Regions from separate parts of the Homo sapiens genome. Here region 2 is linked to region 1. The links come from fine-mapping of genetic effects on gene expression. Tissue or cell type: whole blood. Region 1 holds a variant in brackets; the other region holds the start of a gene. All regions are shown on one strand. Distances are from middle to middle.

What was found. PIP is the estimated chance that this variant, and not a neighbour inherited with it, causes the effect.
Region 2: CITED4 starts here. The variant in region 1 is fine-mapped to the expression of CITED4 in whole blood (TOPMed, PIP above 0.99).

The regions. Positions count from the first base shown.
Region 1 is chr1:40,920,345-40,923,026 of GRCh38, reverse strand. No RefSeq gene overlaps it. Among named protein-coding and RNA genes, the nearest start is that of CTPS1, 58 kb to the left of the region's middle. The variant G/C (reference allele first, on the strand shown) is at 1,070.
Region 2 is chr1:40,860,962-40,863,643 of GRCh38, reverse strand. It overlaps CITED4 (Cbp/p300 interacting transactivator with Glu/Asp rich carboxy-terminal domain 4), which reads left to right and starts at 1,281. Exons shown (of 1, transcript NM_133467.3): 1 at 1,281-2,590. The coding sequence starts at 1,517. The coding sequence ends at 2,071. LOC124904157 (a long non-coding RNA gene) reads right to left here and starts at 1,260. Exons shown (of 3, transcript XR_007066025.1): 1 at 534-1,260. RefSeq lists an enhancer at 895-954 and silencers at 1,055-1,254, 1,415-1,494.

The DNA.
Region 1 (2,682 bases):
GAAAAGCCTGATCCGACACTTTCCTCTCCTCCTTCCCCCGATGCTGTTCCTGATTCTCCCACGGTTCACTCATTCTAGAAGTCCAGGGAATGGATGATAATGCACTAAGCGTGGTGCTTCAGGGCCTCAAAGCATGTTCACAGACATTATCATACTTCCTTCTTACACCAGGCTTGGAGGGCGAATCTATTATCAACCCATTTCACAGCTGAGGAAATAAAGGTGCAGAGAGGGTAGGCAACATGAGCAAGGACACACGGCTGGGAGGAGGCAAAGCCAGGATCTGGACCCAGGTTCCTGAAACTCAGACCAGTGTCCCTGCAGTGCTTTGAGTTTCCCTGGTTTTATGCACCTCTCTGAGGAGCCCCAGTCACTAAGCCTTCCTCACCTATCCACTGCCTGTGTTGGACCTCCTGAACACCTATCTGGTTGTAGAACTGGGTGCAGAGGTTGAGATCAAGGACTTGGAGGTCCACCAGCCTCAGGGTGGAGCTGGGATTTGAGTTTCAGCATTTATCAGCTCTGTGGCCTCAGGCAAGTTGCTTTGCCTGCCTGAGACTCAGTTTCTATATCTGTAAAATGGGCATAATAATCATACCTGCATCCTAGGGTTTCTATAAGGATTAAATAAGATAGGGTACATAAAGTGCCCAGCAGCTTCCTTTCATTTTGCATATTTTTGATAAAATAGCTATTGTTGTCCAGGCACAGCGGTACATGCAAGTAATCCCAGCACTCTGGGAGGCCCAAGCAGGCAGAGGGTTTGAGCCCAGGAGTTTGAGATCAGCCTGGGCAACATGGCGAAACCCCATCTCAGCAAAAAATACAAAAATTAGCTGGGTGTGGTGGTGCACACCTGTAGTGCCAGCTACTCGGGAGGCTAAGTTGGGAGGATCACTTGAGCCTGGGAGATTGAGGCTGCAGTGAGCAGAGATCACTTCACAGCAATCCAGCCTGGGTGACAGAGTGAGTTCTGTCTCAAAACAAACAAACAAACAACAACAACAAAAAAACTATTGTTGTTATTATTATTGACATCCTGAATTTAACCCAAAAAGGAGAAGCTTAA[G/C]ATGGGCTAGTGCCAATGAAGAGTTGCTGTAGTAAAGGTTGTTATGACTATTCCCATGCCATCATGCACAGGCCTGGAAGAAAGAGTCATATTGACAATAACACAACTCCAGCATATGGCAGTTTCTTCTGAAGTGTTGGCCCCTTGTTCCACTGGATGGCTGCTGGCTCCCTGTAGGAACCCACTGCAGGAGAGGAGAGAGGTGTGGGCAGCCTTGGCTGTCACCCTAGGGGTGCTTATTCACTCTGCAAGTGTCACATCCCACTGGCAGGGGGCATAGAGAAGTGCAGGGTGCCTACTCCGGTGATCCCTGGGTGCTGTGGGTCGTGCAGAAGTGAAGATGCGGAAGGAGATTAGGGGCAGGTCTGGGGACCCCTGAAGACCATGATCAAATTATGTAAAGGCAGAAGTGGCTGAGGGCTAGTGAGAACGAAGCTGGACTTGGGGGATCAGATGCTGCATTCAAATCCTTCCTCCACCACTCCTTATATGTGAGCCCACAGATAAGTTGCTTAACTGCTCCAAGCCTCAGTTTACCCATCTGTAAAAACTGGGCATAATTTGAACCTCATGGGAAGGTGGCGAGGCTTGGATGAGTTACCTACGTGTTGCACCAGCACAGTGATAGGCATGACATGGGGGCAGAGTACATGTTTGAGAATTTGAATTTGAAGTCTAGCCAAGCCCCAAGACCCAAGGTACCATCTTAGGAATTTGGAAGAAGAGATGAATGTGGTCTGGAGTAAACAAAGAAGGCTCCAGAATGATAGCATGACTGGCCTTGGGTCCTGAAATCTAAGTATAACAAGGATGCTGGAGAAGCTTGGGGAGGCCATTCAGACAAGAGGTCCAGTGGGAGGAATGGGCATGGCACACAGACAGGACAGTCGCTTTCCGTCACACCCCATGGAAGGTTTTTTTTTTTTTTTTTTTTTTTAGAAAGAGTCTCATTCTGTCACCCAGGCTGGAGTGCAGTGGCACAATCTTGGCTCACTGCAGCCTCAACCTCCCAAGCTCAAGGGATTCTCTCACCTCAGCTTCCCAAATAGGTGGGACTACAAGCATGCGCCACCACGCCTGGCTAATTTATACATATAAATACACATTATGTATATACATGTGTGTATATATGTGTGTATATATGTGTGTGTGTGTGTGTGTATACATATACACGCACAAAACTGTAGAGACCAGGTTTCACCATGTTGCCCAGGCTGGCCTCAAACTCCTGGGCTCAAGCAATCCACCCACCTCAGCCTCCCAAAGTGTTGGACCATGCCTGTCTCTCAGAAAATTCAAACTCTTCACCATGGCCTTTCCTCTGTGACCTCTATTCCCAGCCCTTCTGGTCACCGCACTCACTCTACCTCAGTGGCCTGGTCACTGTGCTCACTCTACCTCAATGGCCTCCTCGCGGTTCCCACACACATCCTCTTCATCACGCCCTATTCTTTTGACTTGTGTACAGAGCACTTAACATACTCTGGTACTATACAATTTGTCATTTGTGTACATGTTTATTGCCTGTCTGCTCCAAAGAGACTGTGAGATCCTTGAGGGAGGGGGCTCCACTTCATTCACTGGAACATCTTCAGTTCCCAGAGCAATGGCGG
Region 2 (2,682 bases), 59 kb after region 1:
GCCCCCAACAAAATACTTGTAGAATGTAAAGCACTTTAAAAGTCCAAGTTATTATTGCTGTTATCAAGAGAAGGCCCTTTGGGACAGAACTTAAATAGCCTTGGCCGGGCGCGGTGGCTCACGCCTGTAATTCCAGCACTTTGGGAGGCCGAGGCGGGCGGATCACGAGGTCAGCAGATCGAGACCATCCTGGCTAACACGGTGAAACCCCGTCTCTACTAAAAATACAAAAAAAATTAGCCGGGCGTGGTAGCGGGCGCCTGTAGTCCCAGCTACTCGGGAGACTGAGGCAGGAGAATGGCGTGAACCCGGGAGGCGGAGCTTGCAGTGAGCCAAGACAGCGCCACTGCAGTCCAGCCTGGGCGAAAGAGCGAGACTCCGTCTCAAAAAAAAAAAAAAAAAGAACTTAAATAGCCTTTCTTTCATCTAAGGGACACTTTTGAGCATCTACCACATACCAGGCACTGTGCTAGGCACTGTGCACACATGCCCTCACTTACCCCTCACAAAGGGTCAGTGCTGCTGTTCTTTACCTTTTACAGATGAAGAAACTGAGGCTCAGCTGAGAGTTGCAATTCATTCCATCATTAGTTCATTCACTCAGCTTTTACTAAAAGCCTGCTCTGGGCCAGGCTCTGGGCCAAGTGCTGAGAAGAAGAAGATGAACAAGTCCTTCAGGAGACGTGCCCATAAATTAATAACAACTAAGTACATGCTTCAACAGACAAGGTGCAGTGGGAACTAGAGGGGGAGCAACAGGCTCTCCTGGGGGTTATGGGAATGGACAGCTGACCTCCTGCGGGGACCCTGCACCGCTAAGGTGCATGCGCCCTGTGTAGCTGTGCAGTCTCACTTTGATCAAGGCTTTGCTGTGTATTTCCAGGAAGCCTCTTCCGCCACTGAGCCTCGGTCTCTACCTGGAAAGTTAAAAGGTTGCGTAGGCCTGACATCCTGCAGCTCTTGGGGGGCCTAAAACTCTGGCCCTCCCACCCCACCTTCTGGTCAGTTCAAGCTCTACCCCAGCCAAGTCCGATTCCGAAGCCCTGAGGGCCAGACCGAATCCCTCCGAAAGTGCCAAATACCCCGCCCCAGGGCGGTGCTCAGAGCCTGGGGCGTGGCCGGAGTCCCAAGGGGCGGGGTTCCAGTGGGAGGGGCGGGGCCAAGACCTAGATGCAGGCGTGCGCGGCCCGCCCAGAAGCGTCTCGCCCAGCCAATGAGCGTCCGAGGGCGGGGAAGCCCCGCCTCTGGGTATAAGAATACGCCGAGCCCAGCTACGCGACGCGGAGGTTTCGGAGCACTACAGGTTGCGGGCCTTTGTGACCCCAGGCTGCGGCCGCAAGGTGCGCAGTAGTGGGCTGGGCCGGGGCACCAGTCGGGTTTGGTTTTGCTCCGCCCGGCCGAGCTGCAGGGACCGCACGGTGCCCGGGTCTCCCGCCGCAGAGCAGCCGCTGGCCCGGGCCGGGGGAGCCGGCGCTGACCACCGCGCGCTGTCCCCGCAGGCAGCCGGCCTGCCGCCATGGCCGACCACCTGATGCTCGCCGAGGGCTACCGCCTGGTGCAGAGGCCGCCGTCCGCCGCGGCCGCCCATGGCCCTCATGCGCTCCGGACTCTGCCGCCGTACGCGGGCCCGGGCCTGGACAGTGGGCTGAGGCCGCGGGGGGCTCCGCTGGGGCCGCCGCCGCCCCGCCAACCCGGGGCCCTGGCGTACGGGGCCTTCGGGCCGCCGTCCTCCTTCCAGCCCTTTCCGGCCGTGCCTCCGCCGGCCGCGGGCATCGCGCACCTGCAGCCTGTGGCGACGCCGTACCCCGGCCGCGCGGCCGCGCCCCCCAACGCTCCGGGAGGCCCCCCGGGCCCGCAGCCGGCGCCAAGCGCCGCAGCCCCGCCGCCGCCCGCGCACGCCCTGGGCGGCATGGACGCCGAACTCATCGACGAGGAGGCGCTGACGTCGCTGGAGCTGGAGCTCGGGCTGCACCGCGTGCGCGAGCTGCCCGAGCTCTTCCTGGGCCAGAGCGAGTTCGACTGCTTCTCGGACTTGGGGTCCGCGCCGCCCGCCGGCTCCGTGAGCTGCTGAGGGCGGCCGGCGCCCGCCCGGCGTGCCGGAGAGGAGAAAGGGCCCGACTGCCCGCCGGACCCTGCACCCAGCGACTGGGCCCCGCGCGCGCCCTCCGCGAGGGTGGAGGCGGCGGCTGTGTGCGCAGGGCCCGGCACCGGACTGGGACCCTGGCGTCCCTCCAGGCCTTGCCTCCTGCGGGAGGACAGTTTGGCTTCACTTCTCTGACCCCAGCCTCGGCCGTAAAGTGAAAGAGACCGGACCAGCTTCAGCTTTCGGACTCTGGTTCTTGGATCGTGTCCTCTCCCCCTCGCCGCCCTCTTCCCCCAATCTGAGCCATTGCAGGCCTCTGCCTGCTGCCCCCTCTCTCCTCGGGATCGGGTCCCCAGAGCCACCATCTCCTGAGCCTCCCACCCCGCTGCCTGGGCCCTGTGGTTGCTGGGCCTCCCACCTCAAGGAGGGGAAGGTTGTACAGCCCGAACCCGTGGAGCAATGCCCTGTCTGGCCTCCAAAACCAAAATAAAACTGGGTCACTTTACAGTCTTGCCGTTTTCATTTCCTTATCACCCCGAGCCCTGACTATATTTAGCTTCCAAAGTCCCAAGGTTGCTGAAGACACTGGATGGCATGGG